4 linked regions of the Homo sapiens genome follow. The protein of the gene in region 1 interacts with the protein of each later gene in a pairwise test. Each region holds a gene or a part of one and is shown in the gene's direction. Other genes may lie near its edges. The genes, in order: CDH1, MYNN, CTNNA1 and C11orf65.

What was found.
Region 2: the proteins of CDH1 (region 1) and MYNN interact in binary tests that used the Homo sapiens proteins (3 or more experiments, as listed by UniProt).
Region 3: the proteins of CDH1 (region 1) and CTNNA1 interact in binary tests that used the Homo sapiens proteins (3 or more experiments, as listed by UniProt).
Region 4: the proteins of CDH1 (region 1) and C11orf65 interact in binary tests that used the Homo sapiens proteins (3 or more experiments, as listed by UniProt).

Annotation. Positions count from the first base shown.
Region 1 is NC_000016.10:68,817,157-68,824,629, forward strand, and holds part of CDH1 (cadherin-1 isoform 1 preproprotein), read left to right. Parts: intron 1-2,123; coding exon 2,124-2,269; intron 2,270-4,844; coding exon 4,845-5,069; intron 5,070-5,292; exon of another isoform or gene 5,293-6,076; intron 6,077-6,242; coding exon 6,243-6,470; intron 6,471-7,473.
Region 2 is NC_000003.12:169,768,320-169,776,437, forward strand, and holds the start of MYNN (myoneurin), read left to right. Parts: upstream 1-5,076; 5' UTR 5,077-5,143; intron 5,144-5,711; exon of another isoform or gene 5,712-5,778; intron 5,779-5,945; 5' UTR 5,946-5,976; coding exon 5,977-6,242; intron 6,243-8,118. Other genes in the region: ACTRT3 (actin-related protein T3), read right to left, coding at 1-31, 1,002-1,201.
Region 3 is NC_000005.10:138,924,210-138,931,682, forward strand, and holds part of CTNNA1 (catenin alpha-1), read left to right. Parts: intron 1-300; coding exon 301-501; intron 502-1,046; coding exon 1,047-1,198; intron 1,199-5,036; coding exon 5,037-5,147; intron 5,148-6,263; coding exon 6,264-6,445; intron 6,446-6,620; coding exon 6,621-6,726; intron 6,727-7,473. UniProt on the Homo sapiens protein: Associates with the cytoplasmic domain of a variety of cadherins. The association of catenins to cadherins produces a complex which is linked to the actin filament network, and which seems to be of primary importance for cadherins cell-adhesion properties.
Region 4 is NC_000011.10:108,464,057-108,471,623, reverse strand, and holds the start of C11orf65 (protein MFI), read left to right. Parts: upstream 1-4,094; 5' UTR 4,095-4,153; exon of another isoform or gene 4,154-4,672; intron 4,673-7,567. UniProt on the Homo sapiens protein: Acts as an inhibitor of mitochondrial fission. Interacts with MFF and prevents DNM1L recruitment to mitochondria, promoting a more fused mitochondrial network.

The DNA of each region.
Region 1 (7,473 bases):
TCTTTCAGAGCCTTTCCATGACCCTAGTAAATAACTGAGCAGTAGATCTCTGTTAGCCTCCCTGTACCTCCCATTAAATGGCAATAGTGCAGTCCACCCACAGGTCAACAGGGCAACCTGCATCTCCAGATGTTCATGACAGGAGAGGAGGTGGCATGTTGCCACCATTTAGGAACTACTGTATTGTTTGGGGGAGCTGGTCTGCAGGAGTCTGCTTTTAAAAATAAATAAGGATTATAGTAATCATTGCTTCAGCAAGAATCATCCACAGATGCCAAATCCATTGGGTGAAAATTAGTTGCTGAACAAGATATTCTCAAATTATCTACCTGCAGATTATAGGTTAATCATGCAGTGAAAAAAGGCACCTTTGCTGTGAAGAAATCTGGTGGCCTTTCCCTTATCCAAGTGATCAAAGTTATCAATAGAAGCACAGACAGACATCATGTGCCTCCCAGTGTCCTGCACTAGGGAGGCCACAGCATCACCTCTGTCCTGTTCTTGCCCCCACCGACCCCTGAAATGGATTACCTGAATCTAAATTTTGAGGAATAATCAGACAAACCCAAGTTAAGGGGCATGCTACAAAACAACGGCCAGCACATTTCAAAAATGTCAGTGACAGAAAAGAAAGACCTAAGGAAGAGCCATGCCAACGAAAGGCCATATTGGATCCTGAATCCAGAAGGGTGCAAGGTTGCTATAAAGGACATTTTTGGAAAATCTGACAATTCGAATATGCACCATATATTCGACAATAGAATTCTATCAAAGTTTTGTTTCCTAAAATTGAAAATCAAGACTGGTCACGGTGGCTCACACCTGCAATCCCAGTGCTTTGGGAGGCCGAGATGGGTGGATCATCTGAGGTCAGGAGATCGAGACTATCCTGGCTAACATGGTGAAACCTCGTCTCTACTAAAAATACAAAAAATTAGCCGGGCGTGGTGGCGGGTGCCTGTAGACCCAGCTATTCAGGAGGCTGGGGCAGGAGAATGGCATGAACCTGGGAGGTGGAGCTTGCAGTGAGCTGAGATCACGCCACTGTACTCCAGCCTGGGCGACAGAACGAGACTCTGTCCCAAAAAAAAAAAAAAAGAAAAGAAAAAAAAAGAAAATCAAATTGGGGTTATATAACAGAATGCCTTTGTTCTTAGGAGATAACACATTGACATATTTATAAGTAAAGGAACATGACTTCTGCAATTTATTTGCAGATGGTTCAGCAGAACAAGAAATTATGTAGGCGTGTGTCAATATAGACAGAGCAGATGTGGCAAAGTATTAACAATGAGTAAACTCAGGTGAAGAGTTCATGGATGGTCATCATACTATTATAGTAACTTGTCTGTTGTATTGTTGGTTTTCTTGGTTTTCTTTTTTTTTTTTTTTTTTTAAAGACGGAGTTTCGGCCGGGCGCGGTGGCTCACGCCTGTAATCCCAGCACTTTGGGAGGCCGAGACGTGCGGATCATGAGGTCAGGAGATCGAGACCATCCTGGCTAAAACGGTGTAAACCGCGTCTCAACTAACAATACAAAAAAATTAGCCGGGCGTGATGGCGGGCGCCTCTAGTCCCAGCTACTCCGGAGGCTGAGGCAGAAGAATGGTGTGAACCCAGGAGGTGGAGCTTGCAGCGAGCCGACATCGCGCCACTGCACTCCAGCTTGGGCTACAGAGCAAGACTCCGTCTCAAAAAAAAAAAAAAAAAAAAAGAAAGAAAGGGTTTCACTTTTGTTGCCCAGGCTGGAGTGCAGTGGTGCAATCTCGGCTCACTGCAACCTCCATCTCCCAGGTTCAAACGATTCTCCTGCCTCACCCTCCCCAGTAGCTGGGATTACAGGCGTGTGCCACCACACCCAGCTAATTTTTGTATTTTTAGTAGAGACAGGGTTTCACCATGTTGACCAGGCTGGTCTCAAACCCCTGACCTCAGGTGATCTGCCCACCTCAGCCTCCCAAAGTGTTGGGATTACAGGCATGAGCCACCGCGACCGGCCTATTGTTGGTTTTCAAAATAAAAACGTTGGAAGTAACCATATAACTGAAGAAGCGCTTAAGCCGTTTTCAGCTACATGTTGTTTGCTGGTCCTATTCTAAAAGCCAGAGCTTGTCCCCGTTCAGATATCGGATTTGGAGAGACACTGCCAACTGGCTGGAGATTAATCCGGACACTGGTGCCATTTCCACTCGGGCTGAGCTGGACAGGGAGGATTTTGAGCACGTGAAGAACAGCACGTACACAGCCCTAATCATAGCTACAGACAATGGTAAGGGGGCCTCATCTGAGCCTTTGCTGCCTCGACCTCCTAGCTAGTTCAGTTCCTTGCCCCTCCCTTCTTTTGGAGGGAAGAGTTCATTCTTTTTCTTTTATCCTTTTTGTTTGCTGGATTGATTTGTATAAATGTATGGAGTACAAGGGTAATTTTGTTACATGCATAGATGTGTAGTGGTAAAGTCAGGGCTTTTAGGGTATCCGTCACCCAAATAACATGCATTGTACCCATTAAGTAATTGTTCATCATCTACCCCCTCCCACCCCTTGGACCCTTCCCAGCTGCCATTGTCTATCATTCCACAATCTACATCCATGTGTACACATTATCGAACTCCGACTTCTAAGTGAGAACATGCAGTATTTCTCCTTATATGTCTGATTCGTTTCACTTGAGACAATGGCCTCCAGTTTCATCCATGTTGCTGCAAAAGATTTCTCTTTTATTCTTAAACAAAGGCATTCTTATTATCAAAAATTCAAGTGGGCTGGGCACGGTGACTCACACCTGTAATCCCAGCACTTAGAGAGGCTGAGGTGGGAGGATCACTTGAGCCCAGGAGTTCAAGACCAGCCTGGGTAACATGGCAAAACCCTGTCTCTACAAAAAGTACATAAATTAGCTGAGTGTGTTGGTGAGCACCTGTAGGCCCAGCTACTCAGAAGGCTGAAGTGGTAGGATTGCTTGAGTCTGAAAGGTGGAGGCTGCAGTGAGCCAAGATTGCGCCACTGCTCTCCATCCTGGGCAACAGAGCAAGACTCTGTCTCCAAAAAAAAAATTGTTTTTTCAAGTAATTTTGGTCAAACAGAACTTACTTTTCACTACTCACTCTTTATTCCTTCCCTAAGGGAACCAGGTAATGATGGTTTACAATCCATTTCCAAAGCTTAATACTTGTGTGACCTTGGATTTGCTGTTTAATTTTTTTTTTTTTTTTGAGACAGAGTCTTGCTCTGTCACCCAGGCTGGAGTGCAGTGGTGCAATCTTGGCTCACTGCAGCTTCCGCCTCCCAGGTTCAAGCAATTGTCCTACCTCAGCCTCCCAAGTAGCTGGGATTACAGGTGTGCACCACCACGCCCAGCTAATTTTTTGTATTTTTAGTAGAAACGGGGTTTCACCATATTGGCCAAGCTGGTCTTGAACTCCTGACCTTGTGATCTGCCCACCTTGGCCTCCCAGAGTGCTGGGATTACAGGTGTGAGCCACCGTGCCTGGCCTGCTGTTTAATTTTTATGTCCCTCAATTCCTTTACCTGAAAAATGTTAATACCCATGTGGGTGAAATTAGTTAGGTGTTAAATCAGTTAGGTGTGGGTCCTTCCAGACTGCTTCTGTGTATTTAAATACATTTATAGGCTGGGTGCTAGGGTCACACCTGTAATCCCAACACTTTGGGGGTCTGAGGTGGGAGATGGCTTGAGGCCAGGAGTTCAAGACTAGCCTGGGCAACATACTGCCCATAATCTCAAAATGCTGGGATTACAGGCATGAGTTATCATGCTTGGCCTCCTTGAGTTAATTTTAAATGACGTGTGCTCATTGTTAAAAAATAAAATTTACATGAGAAAAAAGTTTTAAAAATTTACAGTCATGCCATCTAGACATATCTATTTATAGGTTTGAGATGGATTCTTCTGTTGTTTTGTATCCGTATCGTATACTAATATTGATGATAGTTCCCTGGGTACCAATTTTTCCTACTACCATATGCTCCGTGTTGTGTCAAGATATAAAAGAAATGCAAACAGAAGTGTGGATGGGCTGGGCGCAGTGGCTCACGCCTATAATCCCAACACTTTCAGAGGCTAAGATGCGAGGATCACTTGAGCTCAAGAGTTCAAGACCAGCCTGAGCAACATGATAAGACCCCCTCTCTACAAAAAAAATTTAAAAACTAGCCAAGCATGGTGGCATGCGCCTGTAGTCTCAGCTACTAGGGAGGCAGAGGTGGGAGATTAAGCCCAGGAGGTAGAGGCTGCAGTGAACTGTGTTCATGCCACTGCATTCCCGCCTGGGTGACAGAGTGAGACTCTGCCTCAAAAAAAAAAAAAAAAGCGTATGTGAACTCCCCAATCTATTTTGAAAACCAATTTGCAGAGACTTCAAAAGACCCAACTCATCCCCTTTGATTTTAAGCTTCTAGTCAGGCTTAAAATTAAAATAAATAAAAAGACTCAATGCTTTGTTAATGACCTCAAATGGCAGGAAAGTGCAGAAAAAGGAGAACTAGGGAAACAACAGGCAGGCAATAGGACTTCTTGGAGTAGTTAAAATTCAGTGAATGAATAACGATATGTGAAGAAGGAGGAGTGTGTTCTTGGTGTGAGGAATAACTTGAATAATTGTTATCAAGGTGGGAATAAGTTGTCTGTGTAAAACGGCCAGAGACCTGCCCACCTGGGAGTGGAGGTCCTTTGGGATTGGTGGGACAGGAGGTTCTGCGGGTGGAGTGGGGCCTGGTGAGGGACCACTGAAGAGCCAGGACAAGATCTAGACTTGGTCTGGTGGAAGGCAATGGGGATTCATTACTGTTGCCAAGCTGCCACATTTTCTGTGTATTTTCTCTTAGGTTCTCCAGTTGCTACTGGAACAGGGACACTTCTGCTGATCCTGTCTGATGTGAATGACAACGCCCCCATACCAGAACCTCGAACTATATTCTTCTGTGAGAGGAATCCAAAGCCTCAGGTCATAAACATCATTGATGCAGACCTTCCTCCCAATACATCTCCCTTCACAGCAGAACTAACACACGGGGCGAGTGCCAACTGGACCATTCAGTACAACGACCCAAGTGGGTACCTGAGTTTTATTTTGGCAACTTTGCTCCAACTGCCATGCTTCCCTTCCCCCAGATCCCCACCTTTCAATTTCCCTTCTCAACTTCTAGATGTCACCCCTTCCATTGATACTTGCTTCCTTGTCCCTTCTGTCTTTGAGGCCTTGCTCCAAAGGTCTTTTTCCTTTCCTGGTATCTAACTTTGTAGCATGCTACCCAGTAATCTAAAACCCAAGCAGGGCTCCCTCTCCCAGCCTCTAGCCACCCTCCACTCCCCTCTCCACTTGCAACCAGGACCATCTTCTCTGCTACCTCCTGCTCCTGGGACCAAACAACACCATTTTTGTGGTTAGCTCCTTCTTGCCAACCAATCGTGAGCTCCCAGATTCATCAGAACTATTCTACCGAGGTGGAGGCAGCTGTCAACTGCCTGGTCAATTTGCATATATGGGCTTCCTACACCTACTTCTCTCTGGGCTTCTATTTCCACCATGACGATGTGGATCTGGAAGGTGTGCACCACTTCTTCCACAAATTGGCCAAGGAGAAGCACAAGGGCGCTGAGTGTCCCTTGAAAATGCAAAACCAGTGTGGCGGCCGCACTGTCTTCCCGGACATCCAGAAGCCATGTAAAGATGAATGGGGTAAAACCCTGGGTGCGATGGAAGTCACTCTGGCCCTGGAGAAGAACCTGAACTGGACCCTTTTGGATCTTCATGCCTTGGGTTCCACCTGCACAGACCCCCATATCTGTGACTTCCTGGAGAGCCACTTCCTAGATGAAAAAGTAAAACTCATCAAGAAGATAGGTGACCACCTGACCAACCTTCACAGGCCAGCCGGCCTCCAGGCCGGGCTGGGCAAAAAGGTTCACCCTCAGGCACACGGGAGCCTACCGAACCCAGCGACATCTGAAGAGCCCCGCTCTGCCTAAGCCTCTCCCTCCAGCCACTAGGCAGCTTTTTTAAACCAACTCTAGAGCCCTCTCCCAAGCCTTAGACCAAATGGAAATAAAGCTTTTTACAGCAAAAAAAAAAAAAAAAAAGTACATACCTAAATAAAACCCAAGCAGCTCTGCTCTCTTCACTCGGCTTGCGGGTGTCTTTAGTTCACTAGCAATTTTATTCTGGAATGAGCTTTTTATTTTCCTCCCCTGGTCTCATCATTTCTTTTTATTGCTTTCTCCAGCCCAAGAATCTATCATTTTGAAGCCAAAGATGGCCTTAGAGGTGGGTGACTACAAAATCAATCTCAAGCTCATGGATAACCAGAATAAAGACCAAGTGACCACCTTAGAGGTCAGCGTGTGTGACTGTGAAGGGGCCGCTGGCGTCTGTAGGAAGGCACAGCCTGTCGAAGCAGGATTGCAAATTCCTGCCATTCTGGGGATTCTTGGAGGAATTCTTGCTTTGCTAAGTAAGTCCAGCTGGCAAGTGACTCAGCCTTTGACTTAAAAAAATGGAGGAGGTTTATTTCCTGGAAATGATTTTTGTTCTTATATTAATAAGGATATAGGTTAGCTGATGTGGGAAAGAGACTCCCAAGTTATGCCAGCCTCCATAAAATAGAAGTTTGTCTCTTACTGAACATTTCAGAGGTAAATGGTCTAAGATGGGAAGGCCATGAAGTCAACAGGGGACCCAGGTTTCTTCTACCTTGTCTCTTTTCATTCTTCAAGACAGTGCATCCCAAGCTTGAGAGCATACAAATCATCTGGGCCTCTTTTTGAACTGGGAAATCTGATCCAGGAGGTCTGGCATAGGGCCACAGATTCTGCATTTCTTTTTTTTTTTTTTTTTTTTTTGAGATGGAGTTTCGCTCTTGTTGCCGAGGCTGGAGTGCAATGGTGTGATCTCAGCTCACTGCACCCTCTGCTTAACAGGTTCAAGCGATTCTCCCGCCTCAGCCTCCTGAGTAGCTGGGACTATGGGCATGTGCCACCACGCCCAGCTAATTTTGTATTTTCAGTAGAGACGGTGTTTCTCCATTTTGGTTAGGCTGGTCTCAGACTCCCGACCTCAGGTGATCCACCCGCCTCAGCCTCCCAAAGTGCTGGGATTACAGGCTTGAGCCACCGCACCCGGCCAGATTCTACATTTCTAACCAGCTCCCAGGCGGTACTGATGTTGCAGTTCCTTAGACCATAGGCAGAGTAGCAAGACCTTGGGGGCTGCCCTCATCAGCGTGGTCTAAGCTAGCCAGCTCACCACCACCACCTCTACATTCCATCCTAGATTGGGGAAGGGGATAACAGAGGAAGTGGAGGCCAAACGACTGGAAGTTGCATATATCACCTCCACTTATATACCATTGGCCCAAACACAGCCACATCTAGCTGCAAGGGAACCTGGAAGCTTCTACTTACAATTGAAAATTGACATGGAGTAGGGGTGGAGTGTAGGGTGAGCAGTGAGTGTCA
Region 2 (8,118 bases), on another chromosome or scaffold:
TGAAGTAATGAGACCACGCTCCACTGGGTAACTGTAAGGAAAGCAATAAGATCAATGACAGCTTTTTATTTTTCTAGTTTCTATTGTCTTCGACCCTCAGTTAATTCCCCGCGTTTATTACCAATATCCCTTTATGGGCAATAACTGCCACAGCCTCTCACAGCAGGTAAGTGTCAGCCAAAAATAGCACAGCTACTTACCTCTGCAATTTTTTTTTTTTTTTTTGGAGACAGAGTCTCGCTCTGTCACCCAGGCTGGAGTGCAGTGGCGCGATCTCAGCTCACTGCAAGCTCCGCCTCCCGGGTTCACGCCATTCTCCTGCCTCAGTCTCCTGAGTAGCTGGGACTACAGGCGCGCGCCACCACGCCCGGCTAATTTTTTTGTATTTTTAGTAGAGACGGGGTTTCACCGTGTTAGCCACGATGGTCTCGAACTCCTGACCTCGTGATCCGCCCTGCTCGGCCTCCCAAAGTGCTAGGATTACAGGCGTGAGCCACCGCGCCCGGCCTACCTCTGCGATTTTTGTTGCTTTCCATTTTCTCTGTCCTTTGGAACCTTGTGACTTTTAAAAAATTGGGAAATGTCCACATTATAGTATAGTTTAAATGTCAATTGAAGAGAATAACCCAAGTGACAAAAGGGACCATGAGTTAATATTCTTAAATGAATTCGTTCGATAACTTTATACGTTTTAATACATTTGTATAGCCACAGAGAGCAAAATGTTCAGTTTTTAGATGTGTGGTACCCTTGGAGATTTGTGGCCCGTGCGTTTGTAGTAATTCCAGCTGGATGGGGCTTTCCAGCTCCCGGCTTTCTTATTCTTTCTGTCCCCATTGCGCACCTCCTTTGGGGTCCTTTCCTGCCCCCCGACAACACCCCCAGTCCCCCCACCCCCAGCCACCCCAGCCCCACCCCCCAACCTCCCCAGCCCCACCCTACCCCACCCCCACCCCACCCACCCTCCCCAGCCCCAGCAGCCTGCTGGGAGAAGGAGGTACCTGATGAACAGCGAGCTCCTCCAGTCCTGAGCTTGGTCGCCCACGCAGAGTTCTAGCCCGCCCTGGGCCGCGCGGCTCTGGCCCTTGGCGCGGCCGATAATGTTCGGGTAGATAAACTGGGGCTCCCGGCACCCAGCCACGCCCGCCTTGATCATTCCCGAGCCGTTGTCGATCACCACCGGTAGCTGGCAGTGGTTCATGCCGCCGCTGCTGCCGCCGCCTCCTGTCTCTGAGCCGCTCTAGCTACGGGCTCGGCCGGGGCCGAGTGCCTGGAACGCCGCGTCACAGAGGCCCCGGCACGGCCGGGTGAGGCCAGAGTCCTGGGGGCGCAGGCAGGGGGTCGGCAGGGCCCCAGGCGGAAGGACTCGCTGGACGCACCGTGCTCCTCATGTTACCGCCCGCTATTGCTTCTCGCAGGAATTGGGCCACCCCAACACCTGGAATCCCGGAATCCCAGTATCAGGAAAACCCGACTTTCGCATCAAAAGATTCAACTCTAACCCTTCACAAGTGCATTTCTCAAATACCCAGAAGAGCTATAACAGCAGTTTTATTTTCCAAAGCCACGGAATTCTGGTTAACTGGTGGCGGTTCCGGGGAGTTCTAGAATTCGCCCTTGAAACTGGGGAAAAATGAGACTTAAGAGGAGAAAGTTGTTGCAGGAAGGGAGGCAGTGTCTGCTTCTGAAATGTTAAACTTCTAAAATAAGGAGAAAAATGCTGGAATTTAAATGAGTTTTAAGTACGTTTATTATTGTTTCTGTACCTTGGGCAATGCTTTGTTGTGTTTCTTCCTGTGATTTCCAAGCAAAATGTACGCAATTAAAACAAAATAGTAGTTCCTAGCTTAAATATGTAAATAAATATAAATTTATATATATTTATATAAATATATATAAATTTAAATATAAAATATTAAAAAATATATAAATTTATATAATTTATATAAATATATGTTATATTATATAAATATATTTATATATTTATAAAATATATATTTATATATTTAAGCAAGGATATAAATCGAAATATATATATTTATATTTATTATATGTATAAATATAAATATATAAAAATTTATATTTATATTTATTATATGTATAAATATAAATATATAAAAATTTATATTTATATATCATAAATATAAATATATAAAAATTTATATTTATATATCATAAATATAAATATATAAAAATTTATATTTATATATCATAAATATAAATATATAAAAATTTATATTTATATATCATAAATATATAAAAATTTATATTTATATATCATAAATATATAAAAATTTATATTTATATATCATATATAAAAATTTATATTTATATATCATATATAAAAATTTATATTTAGATATCATATATAAAAATTTATATTTAGATATCATATATAAAAATTTATATTTAGATATCATATATAAAAATTTATATTTAGATATCATATATAAAAATTTATATTTAGATATCATATATAAAAATTTATATTTAGATATCATAAATAAAAATTTATATTTAGATATCATAAATAAAAATTTATATTTAGATATCATAAATAAAAATTTATATTTAGATATCATAAATAAAAATTTATATTTAGATATCATAAATAAAAATTTATATTTATATATCATAAATATATAAAAATTTATATTTATATATCATAAATATATAAAAATTTATATTTATATATCATAAATATATAAAAATTTATATTTATATATCATAAATATATAAAAATTTATATTTATATATCATAAATATATAAAAATTTATATTTATATATCATAAATATATAAAAATTTATATTTATATATCATAAATATATAAAAAATTATATTTATATATCATAAATATATAAAAAATTATATTTATATATCATAAATATATAAAAAATTATATTTATATATCATAAATATATAAAAAATTATATTTATATATCATAAATATATAAAAAATTATGTTTATATATAATAAATATATAAAAAATTATGTTTATATATAATAAATATAAAAATTTGTTTATATATAATAAATATAAAAATTTATGTTTATATATAATAAATATATAAAAATTTATGTTTATATATAATAAATATATAAAAATTTGTTTATATATAATAAATATATAAAAATTTATGTTTATATATAATAAATATATAAAAATTTATGTTTATATATAATAAATATATAAAAATTTATATTTATATATAATAAATATAAATATATATATTTCGATTTCTATCCTTCTGGTGTAATCTGCAAGCCTCATTCGCTACTCTTGATTTTTAGGCTGAAGGACGTGCCTGTCTTTTTGCAGGAAAAGTGAAGTTTATCAGGTCATATGAAATTCAAGTTTGGAAAAATTTGAAAGTACATTGCATGTCAATAAACGCATCTTGGTGTCTGATTCTGCATACATCTGTAGAGAATTTGAAAACAAGCAGTCAATTTAGAACTTCTGCTTGGTCTTCGGAAGCAAAAAGAGGAAATTCAAAAGTAATTTTACACGTCCTTCCACCAGAAGCTGAAAGGATGGCTTTTTCGCGGCTGAATAACGAAAGCCCCCTGCTTCGCCCCGGACTCTGAGCAGCTCAACCTGCGGAAAGGATGTGTAATAAAACGCCTTTCCAGGGAGACAAAAAAAAAAAAGGCCACCCAAAGGAAGGGCAACTCGGGAGTGCCTGGTTTCTACTGCGGTACCCGGGCACTTTGGAAGAAAGTGCGTGCAGATTCAAGCTTTTGAAATGGTTTCAGCTCTGTTCAATTGGGCATAGGCTATTTTTCCTTTTCTGTTTTTTTCTTTAAATACATTATATTCATTCCTCTCAATTTGATAATAATCACTTGAGAATTGCGAATTGACACTTACATATCAAGGACTTTACAAAACCCTCTCCAAAGTGGGGTTTCCGTAGTGTAGTGGTTATCACGTTCGCCTAACACGCGAAAGGTCCCCGGTTCGAAACCGGGCGGAAACACACTAAAAAATCCCTTTTTTTTTTTTTTTTTTTTTCCTTCGCTTGGAAGAAAGCGTGAGATCACGCTTTGTTTTCTTTTGTTGTTTGTTTTGTTTTTTTTTCTGAGGGAAGCCTTAGCTTAATGTATGCCGGTCCTTCAAAAGACATGATAGCAATTTGAGAGTCTGAACTGTAAGTTTTTGTTACTTTATTCGTTCACCAAATGTTTTTATGGAAGCCTTGCCACGTGGAACATGTGTCCCGGGTTTTAAAAAATGAATTTGACTCACCAGCTAACACTGAAAAAATAATGTACAGCCTAGAAGGAAAGATCAAAGTGTAAAAGTGGTTAGTCCTGTCGCCTCCTGAGCATTTTTGTATTATATCACTTGGTTTTTCGTCTGAAGTGGCTGTAAATAATCGTATTAAAAATCTTCTGGTCCAGACGCAGGAAAACCTTTTCCGGTATAAAGCCCACCTTCCTCTAATGTTGCGCATGCCCACTGTGCCCAGCTGCTCCGCTTTCGTGCATCCCAGACTTCTGTCACCAGGTAAGGGCATCTTGGAAGCTGAGCTACAGTTGGCTGGGGCACAAAAAAACCAGGGGGTGCCAAGAGTTTTCAGGTACGTAAGCGGGAAAGGGGTGCCAAGTCTCAGCTAAAAAATCCCCTATGGCAGAGATCCGAGTACACATGCAGCAGTTTCCACCGGTGGGGCCCCGAGGAAGGGGAGGATGATGGGAGAAGACAAGCAACTACAAGCCCCCGCACGCAGTGCGCAGCTGGCTTCAGGAGAGAGGCCCGCGGTGCTGTGCTGCCGGGCCTCGGCGCAGAGCCCCGGCAGAGCGCCAGACGCTGACTGCCGGCACCAGAATGCTCGCGATGAGGAAGACAGGCGGAGCGCTGCGAGCTAGCGAGCCCTCAGCTCTCGTATCCATGACGCCTGCTGCTTCGGGGGACCCCTGGCATGCTGGGGAGTGGGTCTCTGTGGTACATCCTGTACCGCCCTGGCCGGCGCCGGACCCCCATGGCCCCAGAACCTCCCGCACTGCCACGGGAAGACAGAGCCGGACGTGACGCCACCGTGGAAGGAAGGGAGGGGCGGAGCGTGGCTCGGTGACGTCCTCCCAAGATGGCGGAGACAGAGTGAAGAAACTGTGTTCCCCCCTTGGGTTGCTATCGGTGAGTTCCTACTTCACCCCCAGCCCGCCATCCCGGTCTCTCTAGAGCCTGGGCCATCAGAGGGCAGGCTCCTTGGAGTTCCAGCACGGGTCGGGGCGCAGGTGGAAGGCTTGGGCTAGGCAGCCCCGGGGTGGCCTGGGCCACAACCTCTGCTGTGGAAATTCGCGGGAGTGGGAGCTGGGCAGAGGGCAGGGCGGCAGAAGCCGAGGAGGGACTGGCTTTGGTTGTCACTCTCGGATGCCGCCTCGCGTAGAGAGTGGGAAGGGAGAAGGTGTGGCCTCCTTAGCGCGAGTGATAGAACCTTTGACAGCAAGCCATGGCCGGGCGCATTCCCGGCTTTCTGGGCAGCCACCTCTCGTTTTGGAGAAACTGCACTGGGGAAACTAACAGGTTTTGGTGACTTGAGAGCAGTTTTTAAAAACTCGTACTGTTCTGCCCCTATCTGTCCCAAGAGATCATGTCTTAGTGGTTTAAAAAATTTTTTTGTAACATAAGTATGTCTACTGAGCTTGAAAATCTGAGGGTTCAACAGATGTGAAAGCGTCAGGTTTTGCTGTGCTTTTTGCAGGTGGTAGAAGTGTTGCCATTCACCGTCACTTATTGATGTGTCCAAAGGATTGTGTTAGTTGATCAAGGTAACCAAAGATAGAAAGGCACTCATCCCTTCATTCTTAACCATGTATGTTTGATAAGGATTTTCAAGGGGGCTAAAATTGTTTAAGTTATGTCCTCTGTCCCTTCCCTCACTGAACGTTGATGAGAACTTACGGTTACTGATTTACTGTTTCTTTTTGTCTTTTAGATCAAGGGTAAAATTCCATTCTGATATCAAAATGCAGTATTCGCACCACTGTGAGCACCTTTTAGAGAGACTGAACAAACAGCGGGAAGCAGGTTTTCTCTGTGACTGTACCATAGTGATTGGGGAATTCCAGTTTAAAGCTCATAGGAATGTGCTGGCCTCCTTTAGTGAGTATTTTGGTGCGATCTACAGAAGCACTTCTGAGAACAATGTCTTTCTTGATCAGAGTCAGGTGAAGGCTGATGGATTTCAGAAACTGTTGGAGTTTATATACACAGGAACTTTAAATCTTGACAGGTAAAGTACACATTTTATTTTCAGTTATAAAAGCTAGTCAGTAGTCTTCACAGCAAAAGTAGATTTGTATTTTTTCCATTCATTCTCTGAACTCAAATTCTTCACCTATTTATGCACACAATGTTTGTTTTTATAAAGAAATCAGTATCACTGATTTAGGATGAGCAGGCAATATTTTTCATAAGCACAGATAATAAACAGTAAGATTTCTGACACGTTTATTTACTGAAACAAAGCCTGTGATTTCACTTATGTAAACTTGAACATTAAACACAATGAATTTATTTTATTTTATTTTTGAGACGGGCTCACCGTCACCCAGGCTGGAGTGCAGTGGGGCAATCTCGGCTCACTGCAACCTCTGCCTCCCGGGTTCAAGCGATTCTCCCACCTCAGCCTCCCTAGTAACTGGGACTACAGGTGTGCACTACCACACCTGGCTAATTTTTGTATTTTTTGGTAGAGACAGGGTTTCACCATGCTGGCCAGGCTGCAAACAAAAAATTCTAAGTTACTTCCAGTTTCCCATTGCTTTTTGGTCCTTGAATTCCTCTGGTCTTCTGTCTCCCTCATTCTGACTCCTGTTATCTCTATTAACCTACCAGTACTAATACTGAAGTAAGGTCAGAGATGCTAGAATGATTCTCTAAGATGCTTACTGATGTCACTGCATTAACAAGAAGTGGGTTCTGAGGAATCTGATAATGTAGGCACTGTGTGTCTCCCCTGTATAACGAACCATATAATTAGATTAATATCAATACATTTACAGATTGTAGGGGAAAAGGTGGAGGGAATAAAAGCAAAGAGAAACTGATTAAATTACCCCTGTCTTATTTCTGTCTCTCTTATGAAAGTGAACATGAATAGACTGTTCATAATCTTCTGACACAGGAAGATTATAGGCTTTGGAATTAGATCTTTCCTGTCAGTCGCTATGTCTCCTTGAGCATGATGCAATCTCTCTGGGCCTCAGTTTCCCCATCTGTCAAAATGAGATGGTAATAACTACCTTGAGGCTAAATAAGGTTTTACTTGATCCTTATTCACTTCCCACTGAACGTTAATTTCTTTATTTTTCTTCTTTACCCTCTCCTCCCCCTTTAATTCCACATTTCTCGGAGAAAAAATAGAAAAAACAAAAAAGAAACACCTGAAATACTGCTGCCCACTGATAACCCCTGTTAACCTTTTGATATATATTAATTAATTCTTTTCCAGATCTCTGTAGAGATGTGCATGTATACATTAAGCAAAATCTTTCCCTCCCTTTTATATTGTAACTTATCATGGAAATATACTTATTTAAAAATCTAGAATCAGGGTGCTCATTAATCCTTTTGACGAGGAAACATTCTTGTGTAAGAAGTATCCAGTGGGGGGAGGGGAGGGAGAGAAAAGTAAACTTTCATGCTATTTTGGAATTATTTTTAAATTTTGGTATAATGAAATCTTCAAGTGAGTTCTTTATAAGTTGATTAAAGGAAAAGAGCAGTGTGAATTTTGGCTGGCCTGCAATTTAATGGTTTCCCTTTCTCTCAATTAACTATGCAAAACAAAAAAATCTTCATTTGAATACACGGTAGAGCACTTTTCTTTGAGACTTCATGCAAAGAACCAATGTGAAGAACAGCCAGGTGTTTTGTTCAGTCTCTTTTGGTACATATCTTTCCTGGAGACTGGGGAGCTAATTCCTCGAGTTCAGCTAGAAATGTAAGAGAGGATTTATACCAAAATAGAAAGGCTTACAACTTAGTGATTAAGAAAACAGGTAGAATATATTAAGTTGGCTCAGGGGCCAGATTACCTTGGTCAAATCTTGGTTCTAACATTCTGTGCTCTTGGACAGGTTACTTTATTTCTTTGGACTTCTGAT
Region 3 (7,473 bases), on another chromosome or scaffold:
AAAATTACAGAACAGCTGTGTCTCAAAGATGGGCATGTCTCCTGTTTTTTTTGTGTGTGTTTTTTATTTTTTGTTTTTTTTTTTTTAAAAACCTGGAATGAAGATTGTTATTCTTGGGGGTGATAACAGGTTTAGTTTCTGTCTCTGTCACTAGTCACTGGTCTCTCCAATGAAGTATATGTAAAACTTTCAGCACTGTGGCTGGCACCAAGCAAACAATAAATGATAGATGCCAGCTTACAGTTGCCACCTTTTCATAGAAAGCCTCCTTCCTCATTCAACTTTTTGCTTGTTCTCCAGAGAATCACATTTTGGAAGATGTGAACAAATGTGTCATTGCTCTCCAAGAGAAGGATGTGGATGGCCTGGACCGCACAGCTGGTGCAATTCGAGGCCGGGCAGCCCGGGTCATTCACGTAGTCACCTCAGAGATGGACAACTATGAGCCAGGAGTCTACACAGAGAAGGTTCTGGAAGCCACTAAGCTGCTCTCCAACACAGGTACGGGAACTCTCCCTTTCCAGTGCTCGCACACACCGCAGCCTCAGTGAGGCAGGCCACCCCATTAGCCCAGCCCTGTGGTGAGGAAGGAGGAGTTGGGAACTCAGATTTGGTCTCATGGCACATCGGGCTCCTGAGAAGCTGGTCATAGCCAAATTCAGGCCTCACAAGCATATTTTCTTCATCTGTATCTCATGAGTAATCACGGGACTAATTCTAAACACACGATTTAAGATGAATTTCTGAGTTAAATCTCCTATTAGTGAGTAAAGACTAAATTAAGGTAGGTCCCATTCTTAAGCAAGGCTTCAAGTTAGTCTCACTTCAAGTTCTCAACCATCCAATCTCTGTTGCAGAGAAAAAGATGATTTGAGTCGTAAAATACTGCATTTAATTTATTTCAACTGTAAATACCCTTCACACAGGTAGAAGCAGAGGCTCATCATAAGCCTCACCTCTTTCTGTCTAGCTGAGTGATTCAGGGAGGGCCAGGGGAATGATGCTGCCTGCTGACCAGGGTATCTACTGTGCCTCTTTCTCCACAGTCATGCCACGTTTTACTGAGCAAGTAGAAGCAGCCGTGGAAGCCCTCAGCTCGGACCCTGCCCAGCCCATGGATGAGAATGAGTTTATCGATGCTTCCCGCCTGGTATATGATGGCATCCGGGACATCAGGAAAGCAGTGCTGATGATAAGGGTGAGTAACTGCATTTCAGACGTCTTAACAGCTTCTTTCTTATCATTTGCTAAACTTGAGCAATGCGTCATTCTAGAACTCGGCAGATGCGGTGGCAGTATATTAAAACCATGAATCTAAAAGCTGTTAGAATGAGATATATTTAATTACGTTGTCTAAAATGACTGTTAGTTGCAAGTTAGAGCCCAAACTTGGGCCAAGAAGGGGAGCTAGCCTGAGTTGACGATTTAATTTAGGATAAACAGTCTCTACAACATGAGGCTTCAGTTTGAGTTAGGCAGGAAATTATAGAAAATAATGGTTCTCAAGCTAGTATCAGAGAAGGAAGTATTTTCATAATGCGGATTCAAGTTATTGTTCACATGAAGTGCCCCTCTCTTCGGAGGGGCTGCAGGCAGACGGGATGATGGAACCCCAGGGTGTTGGGGGGAGGAGCGGCCCCAGGTGATGCTCCTAGGCTCATGGCCAAGTGCCGAGCCCCTTTCCCCATAGCCAGAGTGCCTGGAGGGCCTCTGTCGCAGGGGCAGAGGAGAAAGGGGCCTCTATGGCATCTGTGATTGAGCTCCCGGCATACCGTCCTGCTCTCTGACAACTATTCCTGTCTTCATTCAAGAATCATCCAGCCCCTGGGCCTCTCAGTTTCTTGATGTCTTGTCCTCCTCCACCTCAACCTCACGGCCATAGCTGTACCTCAGCTTTTGTCACTGCCTGCCATTGTCTTTGTCATCCCCAGCAGCCTAGATCTATTGTTCAGGTTGCGCCCTCGAGTCCTGCAACTCCCAGCGAGCCTTTGAGTCTACTGTGGGGTCTTCAGTCAGTTGGTCCTCCCCATGTGTCACTCAGCCCCTTGTGTCCTTGGTTCAGTCCTTTGTTAGCTTTGAGTCCATAGTTGAATATACTCACTCCTCTGCCCTGCTGTTTCCTCACACCTGCCTTGCAAGGTGCAGTCCTGGCAAGATCCTGCTCTCCTGAGCACAGTGCAGATGGCCACAGCCACGCTGATGGAGCCGCAGAAGCCGCGGCCATTTGTGCGCCCTTGCTGCCCTGCAACAGGCGTCCACCCACCCACCCACACCTGTGCCCCTGTCCTGTTTGGCCCACTTGCCGATTTCGTTGAGGATACTGAGGCAGTTAGTGCGTCCACCCCTCTGCATCCCATGTCTGTGTGCTCTACCTTCCTCCTAGCACCATGGGCATTGCTCTCGGTGCTTCTGGCCAAGGCCATCCCTTGCACGTCTTTGTACTAGGATCCCAGCTTCTTCACCCCCTGCCTCCTGTACCTTTCCCCAAGCCTATGATGATTTCTCCCATTTTTAGGGGGAAAAAAAAAGTCTCTTGACCCACACCCCTTCTCAGTCTCCTTGGCTGGTTTCTCCCCATCTCCTCAGCCTGTGAAACACGGGTGTGGCCTGCTGGGAAGTCCTTGACCTCTTCAGAGTCCTGTCTAGAGGCCGACTCTCCTAAGTTCCACACCTGTCTGCGCACCTTGCCTCCTCCCTCTCACTTGCTCCACCCAGGCAGCACATGTTAGTTGATAGTGACTCCGTCTTCCCTTGCTCGGGCCCAGACCTCGAATCTTTTATTTCCCTTTTGTCCCATACCTCACATCTGCTTTATCTGTGAATTCTTTTGGCTCTCCGTTCACAGTAGAGAACCTGAACATGTTCTCACCCTCGTCTAAGCCACCAGCACCTCTCACCCGGGTTCATGCAGGTGCCACTCAGCTGGTTCCCTGTTCCCATCCTGGGTGCCTACAGTCTCATGAGCCACAGGGCAGCCAGAGCGATTTCTGTAAGCTTCAATCAGATCATGTTATCCTCTGTGCCAGCGTCTCCACAGGCCGCCACGTCACTCATTCTTTATGCTGGCCTACGAGGCCTTCTGGGACTGGAACCTGTCACTTCTCCAACCTTATTTCCTGCTGATCTCCTCTTGTACTCATGGGGTTCCAGGCAAGCCGGTGACATGGGGGCAGTGAGCTAAGCCCCCCTTCTGTGGCCTCCTTGCTATTCACGCAGTTCCCTGGGCCAATGCCCCTTCCCCACGGCCTCTATGCTGCCACCCGCCCCCCCTTCCCCCTCCTTGAGAGCACCTTCTCGTGAGACTTTTCCAAACACCCATATAGAATTAAAATCTCCCTTTATTCATCACTGCTTTCTTCATAGCACTGGTCACTTTTGATGTGTCATATAATTCATTTGCTTACTTTGTTGTCATTTCTTCCATTAGAATATGCGAGAGGAATTTTTGTCTGTTTGTCACTTTGTATCTTTAGGGCCCAGAACAGTGCTTGGCAGAGAGATAATGAATGAATGAATGAATGAATGAATGAATGAATGAGAGTACTCGGTTTTCTTGGCAAGAACGGTTCTTGGGTCTGCGATGGGGTGCTGGGGAGGTAGAGATGATGTTAGGAGGTGGTCCTTTGAAAAGCCCCTTAACTGATTGATTGCATGCCAGTCCCGAAGGCATGTGTGACTGCAGCGTTAAAACTGTCAGTGCTGGCATTGTGTTTTGTGCCACCGAGTCCATCGGCCTCCAGGACCTCACACCGACATGCTGTCTGGTCCCCTGCGTGAGCGTCCACTGTTCTCACCTCATCAAGGGACAGGCCCAGCCTTTGCACAGCACGTTCTTGGTGGTTCCAGAATGTTTCTTGCATATCTTCTTGTTTGAACCTCACTGCAAGTCCTTGGGCTGGGCTTGGACTATGTCCTGGTACACAGACGAGAGACTCGCCTCACTGCCCTCCTGTCACAGGCCAGCCGGCTGGGCTGAGCGCCAACCCCAGCTGTTCTGCCTGCTGCCCCCTTACTGATAACTGCCAGAGGACAACATTATGTTTCAAGTCAGTAGCTAATCATGAGAGGCTGGTAGTTGGTACAAAATAAGAATTTTATTTCATAATTAAAGCAAAGAGCTAGGACCAGTAATCAGTCCCTTGGGTATTTACTCAGCCCTCACCTGCCATATTCTCCCCTCTTTTCTTTTGATGAAAGTCAAAAGAATACTTTAAAATACATTGCCTATTTTTACTCCTCCAAGCAGCCTTGGTACCCTAACAGAAGGCCCAGTTATTTAATTTTCTTTTTGTCATAAAGTAGGAAAGTTATACAAATCCGCTTAATACTATACAAAACACCTCTATTTTTAAGTCAGTACCTTTTCTACCCAGGACAGTTCTCATCTTTGTCTTAAAATGCCGGTGTTGGGGAAGTAAATTAGGAAGTAAAAACCTTATGTCACTGGGCACAAGTGGCTCACGCCTGTAATCTCAGCACTTTGGGAGGCCAGGGCAGGCAGATCACCTGAGGTCAGGAGTTCAAGACCAGCCTGACCAACATGGTGAAACCCCGTCTCTACTAAAAATACAAAAATTAGCCGGGCATGGTGGCATGTTGCCTCTAATCCCAGCCACTTGGGAGGCTGAGGCAGGTGAATCTCTTGAACCCGGGAGGCGGAGGTTGCATTGATTCCAAGATCACGCCACTGCACTCCAGCCTGGGTGACAGAGCGAGACTCTGTCTCAAAGGAAAAAAAAAAACAATCATGTCTTACAAAGAAATAGTGAATTGACTCAGTGATAGCAATTGAGCCCCACACACAGTGAAACCAGCCCAGGCCTGCTGTGGGCCAGGCAGCCCAGCGTGTGCACCAGTGAAGCAGAGGCTCGAGACAAATGCTGAGTGATTTTGACTTTATTCACCATACTGTTCAGAACACTGCACATTAAAATCCAGAATTCTGGGCCTCCGTGCACCTGGCCAAGAGGCTCAGGGTGGCTGGGGGCTGGTGGCCCAGAGATGTGTCTGACCTGTGATCTTTGTCTGGGTGGCAGACCCCTGAGGAGTTGGATGACTCTGACTTTGAGACAGAAGATTTTGATGTCAGAAGCAGGACGAGCGTCCAGACAGAAGACGATCAGCTGATAGCTGGCCAGAGTGCCCGGGTAAGGAAGCGCTCCGTGGGGCAGTTCAGCTTGTGCTGCCGACTTTCCCTGTCCCCTTTCTTGTTTCCAGGAAAACACCCTCAGTATTCAGAACACCGTTTCTCTCTCTCTGTCTCTCTGGCAGTAGACTGAAGTTAAACTAAGTTGTGGCACCTGCTAGTCAAATGTAGCCTCCTCAGCTAGAGGCAGACCAGGTCCTGGGCCTCCTCTGCAGTGCCCTGAGCTTTAGTTTATGATAGAGCCCTGGGTCAGGGAAGGGCTAAGATTTAGTCAATGCAGTGTTTGTTGAAAGGATCGTGAAATTTGAAAAAGATTGCTGCCTTTGTCCATCTCGATACTATGGGTATGAACTATTTAATTATTCATGGGTTTAAAAAATAACAGTGGTACATTCAAGAAAGCCAGTCAGAGCCATTGCATTCATTTGAGTCATTAAATCTTCAATCAATAGCATTTATGTTTTGGGGAGGATGCCAAGAAATATTTCTAAGGAGTCTTTGATTTCACTCCTTGGAAATCTGTCGTGAACAGCGAGCACATCCCTGCCTTATGTCCTGCTCAGTCATGAGCACTTAGGGAAGCTGAGAGGGAGGAGCTCCCCAGCCGTAGGTCTGTGGGCTGGAGGTGGGCAGCAGGCCTCCAGGTGTTGCTCAAGTATGGCCTGAGTGCCAGCGGTATCTCTCAGCCCTCTTTCTTCAGGTGTACATTCTAAAGCCACTTTCAGTTCATCTTGAATAGTTGGAAATGTCCATCAGGGCCCACCAGGGAAAGGGCTCCACACTTTCATCAACCCCTTCTCTCATTTCTTGTCTTATATTAATAAGAATTAAGCAGGTTCTGTCCCTGCACAGGTGTGATTCCAAAGCTTCCACATTAGCCTTCCACCCCTCGCTGTTTCCTTCCACACTAAAACTTGTGCTCAAAAGTGGGTCGGAAATTCAGGCTGCCATAAGTTTCTGCAAAAAATGAGAGAAATAGCCCTTCAGGCGAAATGAAACCTATTAAAGCATTATCCTACCTATGCCACAGATTGCCTGTTGGAAATATTCTTGGCTAATGCACTCTGAGAACTTCATATTCTTTTTATGTAAGAGCTCTTTGTGCTTCTGATCACAGGCGATCATGGCTCAGCTTCCCCAGGAGCAAAAAGCGAAGATTGCGGAACAGGTGGCCAGCTTCCAGGAAGAAAAGAGCAAGCTGGATGCTGAAGTGTCCAAATGGGACGACAGTGGCAATGACATCATTGTGCTGGCCAAGCAGATGTGCATGATTATGATGGAGATGACAGACTTTACCCGGTGAGCAGCACCCCGGCCCCACCAGGCTGCACAGGGGCTACTTTCTTCCCCACAGGTCACCTGCGCAGCGGCTCAGACAGCCCAGGCCATGGGGCTTTGTGGACAATCTTCTTTTTCTACTCCAACTGTGAGGGGCTTCACATACAATAATCCTTGTTCTCTTCCCTCTTCTCAGAGGTAAAGGACCACTCAAAAATACATCGGATGTCATCAGTGCTGCCAAGAAAATTGCTGAGGCAGGATCCAGGATGGACAAGCTTGGCCGCACCATTGCAGACCATGTAAGTGACAGACTTGCCAGGTGGGTCTCCAAGCTCCTCCTGGGGCTCAGGCAGCCCAGCCTGGTCCATTCAGGGTAAGTTTCATGGGCCACAGCACTTTTGCCACTCATCTCTAAAAATGGTTCTTATTAATCCCAGCATAGATTTGTAAGGATTCTCTAGAGCGGATGTGTATGTCCTGGAATCTTCCATCGCTTGGTAGCCAAAATTAACCTCTGCTATTGTCTCTTATGTCTCAGTTCCCTCTCTCCCCCTCTGGGCAGGGGCCGAGAGCAGCCAGAAGCCATGTGGCCAGTGCTGTGGAAGGCTGGTGTGCCTAGATGGGCCCAGGTTTCTTCATCCTCAGCACTGTGTTTCTCAGCCACCCCGTCTTCATCCCCCTATTCCCTCACACTGATAGGTACAAAAATACGGTTCCTACCGCCTGGAAATTGTACAATACATTTCATTTGGTGTTTTAAGCCTGATCAAGAGAAGCTCTTTCTCAGTTACAGTTTTTCTCTGTAGTTAACAAGCCTCCCCACCATTTTCCCTGAAATAGCCAAACTCTCAGCCTCATCTAGGCCACAGGATGTGTGAGACACAAGCCTCCTTACACAAGCCAAAGATTGTAAAGGCATCCTTGACTCCCACACAATCGGTAATAGGGCCTATTGCTTCCATTGGCCAAATGTATCTTGACACAAACCAGTCTTGTCCTTTCTGCAGATCTCCATAGCCACTTGGACTACTGTGGCCGCTCCCGAT
Region 4 (7,567 bases), on another chromosome or scaffold:
ATCATTACAGTGAAAGAGATCTGACCTAACCAACTCCATCTTGATTCTAACCTCCAAGCTGTCCCTGTTTATTCCTGGGCATAGGCCAAACTAACCTTGGGAGGAACTTAGTTTATAGTTTAACTTTGAAACAAAGATGGTAACAGCGCTTTCCCAAAAGAAGCCCTCTTCATGCCTGAGGATTAGACTGCCTTTGCAGGACTAACAAATTAGCTGAAACATAGAAATTATGATTTAGGATTCATACATCTGAAGGCTGCCAGACTTTGAGCCTCCTCAAATTGCTCCTGGGGATAACATCACTATTGTAAACCTAAAATCAGTGCTTGAGATATTTTGCAGACCCTGCACTTGATGATTCCACTAGCATCACTCAGATCAATAAACTGGCTTATCTGGTCTTGTGGCCCCGACCCAGGAACTGACTTAGCATAGGAGGACAGCTTCGACTCCCTTTGATTTCATCTCTGACCCAACTAATCAGCAGCTCCCCACTTTCTGATCCCCTACCCACCAAATTGTCCTTAAAAACCACAATCCCTGACATTTCAGGGAGACTGATTCAAGAAATAAAACTGCGGTCTCCCATACTGCCAACTCTGCAAGAATTAAACTCTATTGCAATTCCCCTGTCTTGATAAATTGGCTCTGTCTAGGCAGCAGACAAGGAGAACTCATTGTGTGGTTACAGTCTCAAAAAAAAAAAAAAGAAAAGAAAAGAAAAAATATTTAAGCTTGGCACCATTATTTTTGTTGATGGTGAAAATACTAAAAGGGGCCAGGCATGGTAGCTCACGCCTGTAATCCCAGTACTTTGGGAGGCCGAGGTGGGTGGATCACAAGGTCAGGAGATCGAGACCATCCTGGCTAACACAGTAAAACCCCATCTCTACTAAAAATACAAAAAATTAGCCAGGTATCATGGAGGGCGCCTGTAGTCCCAGCTACTTGGGAGGCTGAGGCAGGAGAATGGCGTGAACCCAGGAGGCAGAGCTTGCAGTGAGCTGAGATCCTGCCACTGCACTTCAGCCCGGGCAACAGAGCGAGACTCCATCTCAAAAACAAAAAAAAAAAAAGAAAAAGAAAATACAACAAGGGTACACAGAAGACAAACAGTCCCCTGGCATAACAAGAGTCACTGTAGTGAAGAGGACAGATTTCTCAGCCAAGAATTAGCTAAAGGTGCCAACTCCCTTCCTCTAGCCTCTTCAAACTGCTAAGCCTCAACAAGAGGATTGATGCCTGGTTGGAGGTCCCTCTGGCCTCCTTTAGGACCACTGCAGGACCTGTGCCTTTGACCCACACCCACTCCTCATGTGTGACATTGTGGTTTTCTACTACATGACATATTTTCCACAATTATAAAAGATTCCATGCTCACATCCGGGAGACAGCCTTGGAGTCCCCTATTGTTGGAGTTTGCTCCAGTGCCAAAGCAGAGAGGAAAGAAATGGCATATAATTGTGACTCTTCTCCCTAGGCAAAATGGCATGTAATTGTGACTCTTCTCCCTCGGCACTACAGATATTTCCCCTTTCCTCATGCCAATTCATTTTTGTTTCCTTATCTCTTGTCTTCACATGGTTTATAAAGAAAAATCTTTGCCTTGTAAGTGGAAAGCAAGAATATTAATTTCATAAATATAATATGATATATTGTATAATAGTAGTAAGACAAAGAAGAGAGAAAAAGAAGAGGAAGAGAATAAGTGGAGAGGGGAAGAGAGAAGGAAGGAAGGAACGATTTCTGTGAAACCACCCAGAAGTTCTTCTGAGTTCTGCGTCTTAGTAAACTGTTCCTAGATTTAAGCAGGTACATATAAATGAATAAACCTAACACTTGACAGTTTCTAGTCTTAATGATCCCTTGTGGCTACTTTAAAGAAAGATACTTTTAAAGAACTGAACAATTTTTACATGTATTAGAGCAATAAGAAAATGTTCTAGCCTGTTATGTAGAAATTGCTGAATTCTTGTGGATCAGGTTAGAGGTAACATAAGTACTCAACAGTAACTATTGTAAATACTTTTTAAAATAATTCAGATAAGCACTACATTAAAAATATGCAGTTTATTAGGTTGATGCAAAAGTAATCGCGGTTTTTGCCATTATGTTTAATTATGTATGTTTAATGACAAAAACCGCAATTACTTTTGCACCAACCTAATAAAAATAATATCTAAACAGCAGTATACCTTAAATTTATTTTTATATTTCATCCAGTACATTTAGGAATTTTTGTTCTAAATTATTTACTGGCTTAGTTTTGCAGTTTTTTAATTTAAAATTTTTAAATTGTGGTAAAATATACATAAATTTATCCTTCTAACTAGTTTCAATTGTACAATTCAGTGGACTTAAGTACATTCACATTGTTGTGTAATTTTGAATTTAATTTTTTTTTTTTTTTAGAGGGAATCTTGCTGTGTTGCCAGGCTGAAGTGCAATGGCGCTATCTCGGCTCACTGCAACCAACCTCTGCCTCCCGGGTTCTATCAATTCTCCTGCCTCAGCTTCCTGAGTAGCTGGGACTACAGGCAGCGCGCCACCAGGAGATTGAGACCATCCTGGCTAACACAGTAAAACCCCGTCTCTACTAAACATACAAAAAATTAGCCGGGTATCATGGAGGGCGCCTGTAGTCCCAGCTACTTGGGAGGCTGGGCTAATTTTTGTATTTTTAGTAGAGAGGGGGTTTCACCATGTTGTCCAGGCTGGTCTTGAACTCCTGACCTCAAGTGATCCGCCCACCTCAGCCTCCCAAAGTGCTGGGATTACAGGTGTGAGCCACCACACCTGGCCTGAATTTAAATTTTTTAACCCAGTTTCTATTAGATTGAAAATTAAGATATACATAATGTTTCCATGACTATATTTTTACAGTTTATTGTTCATAACTACTGTGTATTAATGCATCAAGGCAACTACATAAAGAGGAACTGAAGCTCACCCCTTGCTTATGATTGTGATGATTTTAAAGAACTCTGGAAGTTCAGTGAGTCACTGAATTAACCTACCAAGAATTTTTTCTGTACAAATGTTTTCATTATACAGGGAAATTTCTCTTCAGGTGTTTCTTTTCCCTCCTTAAAAGTTTATCTTCCTTACAAACAAATTATATTCCATGCATGAACATAGGACGAACATAGCAAAACTGGGCAGTTCTGAACAAGATTTTTTCACATTGCAATAATCTGTGACCAACTAAAGCACTGCCAAAGTGTCAGACTCAGAATTCAAGCAAGTCAGACTTGCTTTAGATAAGCAGTGCTTGCATTATTTAAGGTCATTTGAAAACTCATTCAAGAGGTCGTCTGTTTTCACTTAAAGCAGTTTAGCTTAACCAGCTGAAGAGCTTACATTTAGAAATAACATTGGACTGCAAGTCACGTATTCTTTGACCTTGAGCAAGACCTGTCAAATAGCTAGAAGGATCAGTTGTCTCATTTTCAAATGAATAAATTAAACTAATTAAATAGGCCGGGCGCGGTGGTTCACGCCTGTAATCCTAGCACTTTGGGAGGCCAAGGCGGGAGATGGGGTAGGGGGGGATCGCTGGAGCCCAGGAGTTCAAGACCAGCCTGGACAACATGGAGAAACCCTGTCGCCACTATTAATAAAAATAGAAAAATGAGCCTGGCGTGGTGGTGCACTCCTACGGTCCCAGCTACTCGGGAGGCTGACGTGGGAGAATCACCTGAGCCAGGGGAGTTCCAGGCTGCAGTGAGCCGAGATCGCGCCACTGCACTCCAGCCTCGGCCACAGATTGAGACCCTATCTCAAGAAAAATTTTACAAAAATTAATAGAAAATATTTCATTATATTTCTCAACATCTTTAAGGTTCTTGGTTGAAATGACTGGGCTTTATTATATACTAAGCCCAACTTCGTAGACAATCACTTTGCTTTCCCTTCCAAAATCCTTTGCCTCAAAGCCACTGACAATCGAAAGCGGGCTTCTAACAGAACCAGCAGCCTTCACAAGCGGTTGGTCTATATCCCCTGCACTTTGTCAGAGCGCGAATAGAGGAAAGGCGGGGCCTAGAAGGCGGGGCTAGGAGGGCAATGGGGCGGGACAGAACGGATTGAGTTACGTCATTTCCGCCTGCGACGTTACCTAGGAGTCCAGCGGCGCCCGGGCCAGCAGCGATTGGTAGGTGAAGGGAATAGTGTCCCTTCTCTCAGCGCGTACTACTGTTCCGGTAGCCTTTGTGCCCACTGGTTTGAGCCTTCGTTGTTTCAAGGCCCTAAAGAACCCATACCCTTGATACCATTCCCCATCCGCCCCTCTTAAGGACGTTTCATTCCTCTAAAGCCCTCCCAGCGAGGCCTCCAGCTGGTTTACAGTCCTGCCCGGGAGTAACCCCTTCCTCAGAGCTCCTTTCCTCGCCCTCGGTGAAGTTGCGTCGGGCTGGTTGACAAGTCCTTACTGCTCATACTGCGCCTTCACAGATCCCCACACCCCAATCCTCCGCAAAGATATTACTCCGTCCACCTTCCCGCTGACCGGGAAGTACACATTAATCTTCCTTAGATTTTTCCTCATTTCTTTCCTTTGCCCCCTCCCATTTGTTTTACGTCTTTTCAGTTTTTTTAGAGATGGAAAAGGGAAACGCGTTTTTAAAGAATAGGTTAGTTTTTCTTCTCCTGCCCCTAGCATCAAGGACCACAGGTAAAAAGGAAAAGCGAAATTACGAAACTTATAAAGGCCACGCGAATCATTTGTTTATTCAATAAATTTAGTAGAGGAAACAAAATAGGACGTATACAGGTTCCAATTCAAGCAAAGTAAAGATTGTTTGCTGCTTTAAAAGTGAAACCAAGAATCCAAACACGTCTTGTGGGCTTTTTTCCACGAAGCGTAAAAATAAATAAGTGAAAACATCATCTATTATGATAAAAAATTTTATTGATTAGGGATATAATAAGCTTGGAAAATACTTATCTGTGAATCTACAAGTGGCACATGGGTGTAGTAAAATACTTCATTGCCTGAGCAGTTGTTTGATAGTACATTTTATTTGGTTAGTTTTTTGTTGTTGTTTGTTTTTGAGAAGGCATCTCGCTGTGTTGCCCAGGCTGAGTGCAGTGGCGTGATCTCAGTTCACTGCAACCTCTGCCTCCTGGGTTCAAGTTATTCTCCTGCCTCAGCCTTCCGAGTAGCTGTGACTGCAAGTGTGCGCCACCACACCCAGTTTATTTTTGTATTTTTACTAGAGACAGGGTTTCACCATATTGGCCAGGCTGGTCTCAAACCCCTGACTTAAGGTGATCTGCCCACCTTGGCCTCCCAAAATGTTAGGATTACAGGCCTGAGCCACCAGACCCGGCCTGGTAGTACATTTTAGTATCTTAAAACTTATGAAGGGTTTTCACAATGGTTATTTTATCTGGAGCATCATAATAACCATATAAAGTCGATCTTATTTCTTATCTAAAGCCAGCAACGGTCCCACCCTCCTTTCTGCTCCAGATGGTGTCCTCTTACACCTACTCAAAGGTTTTACCATTTAACTTATCCCTTTTTTTGCCCCTTTAAGTTCTCCGTCACTTTAATTTCTCCCTCACTACTGGATGGTACATTTTAACATGCTTTAGAATCTGTCGTTTTTTGTTGTTGTTGTTGTTTTTTTTTTTTTTTAGACCGAGTTTCACTCTTGTTGCCCAGGCTGGAGTAGTGGCATGATCTCGACTCACCGCAACCTCCGCCTGCCAGGTTCAAGCAATTCTCCTGCCTCAGCCTTCCTGAGTAGCTGGGATTACAGGCATGCGCCACCACACCCAGCTAATTTTGTATTTTTAGTAGAGACGGGATTTCTCCATTTTGGTCAGGCTGGTCTCAAACTCCCAACCTCAGATGATCCGCCCACCTTGGCCTCCCAAAGTGCTGGGATTACAGGCGTGAGCCACCGCGCCCAGCCTTTTTTTTTTAAAAAAAAACCTTTAATCCATTCTCACTCTCTAGCTACACCCCATTTTTCTGCTCCCTTACAGCACTCCAAAGAATTACTACTGTACTTACTGTCTCAACTTTCCCACTTCCTCAACCCAACCCAAACTTCCTTCCCTGCTTACTCCACTGAAGCAGTGCCTGTACAGTCACTAGTGACTTTATCTGGCCAAATCTCCCTTTTTTTCCTCTGTATTTACTTGCCCTTGCAACAATATTTGACACAATTGAATATGTTCTTTCTTGAAATTGTGGAACTTCATTGTTTATTTCTGAATCAGATAATTTTGAATGCTGGAATATATTTCCTCTATATTTTGTGTATTCATAAACATATAATGGTGGCATTTATGACATACTTTTTTGGCAGCTTCTAAACACCCTTTAGCCTATGTCACTAGAGAAGCAGGAAGCAGGTGTATGCAGAAAGCCCGTGTAAAATTATTTAGATCAAAGTATTCAATAAACTGGTTCAGGATTTTCAAGGGATTTTTAAGATCCAGTGTTAAATTTCCACCTACAAAATTGGGAATGTATTTGGGAAAATGATGAAATTGTGATGAATTAATGCTAATGCTGTCACGTTAAATAACACACACACTACATTGATAACAGGTAAAAAATCTCACAGTTTAGTTCTTGGAAAGTATTAAAAGACCCATTTTAATCCTAATATCTAATTTACGTTTAGTTTTTTACTTTTCTAAAATTTAGAGTCAAGCATTCCCATAGAATGTTTATGGGCATAAATTAGACACCATTTTTGAGGACAGTTTGGCAGTGTTAGGTTTCAATATGCACGCTGTTTTTTTTAATGAAGTTATATTGTATATATCTGAACTAAATGCACATTGTGGAAAAATACCAACAGCATAAAAGAGTATACTGGAACAAAAACATCTCTTCCCTTTCCGAACCCAGGCTCCTCAGTCCACAGGTCCCTTCCTAGAGACAATCATTCTTAGTAATTTCTCATATCCCTTTCCAGAGAGAGTCAATTCAAATATATATGTGCACCAGGCGCAGTGGCTCATGCCTGTAATCCCAGCGCTTTGGGAGGCCGAGGTGGGTGGATCACGAGGTCAAGAGATGGAGACCATTCTGACCAACATGGTGAAACCCCATCTCTACTTAAAATACAAAAATTAACTGGGCACGGTGGTGCACACCTGTAGTGCCAGCTACTTGGGAGGCTGAGGCAGGAGAATCACTTGAACCCGGGAGGCGGAGGTTGCAGTGAGTGGAAATCGCGGGGAGGCTAAGGCAGGAGAATCGCTTGAACCCAGGAGGCGGAGGTTGCAGTGCACCAAAATCGCTCCACTGCATTCCAGCCTGGCGACAGAGCGAGACTCCGTCTCAGAAAACAAACAAAAAACAGAAATATATATGTGCATACCTTTTGTCATAGCAATTCCACTTGTAAAAACTATCCTACAAAAATTGTTGCCGCTGAGCGCAATGGCTTATGCCTGTAATGCTAGCACTTTGGGAGGCCAAGGCGGGTGGATTTCTTGAGGCCAGCAGTTCGAGCCCACCCTGGCCAACAGGGTGAAACTCTGTCTCTACTAAAAATACAAAAATTAGCCAGGCGTGGTGGCACACACCTGTAATCCCAGC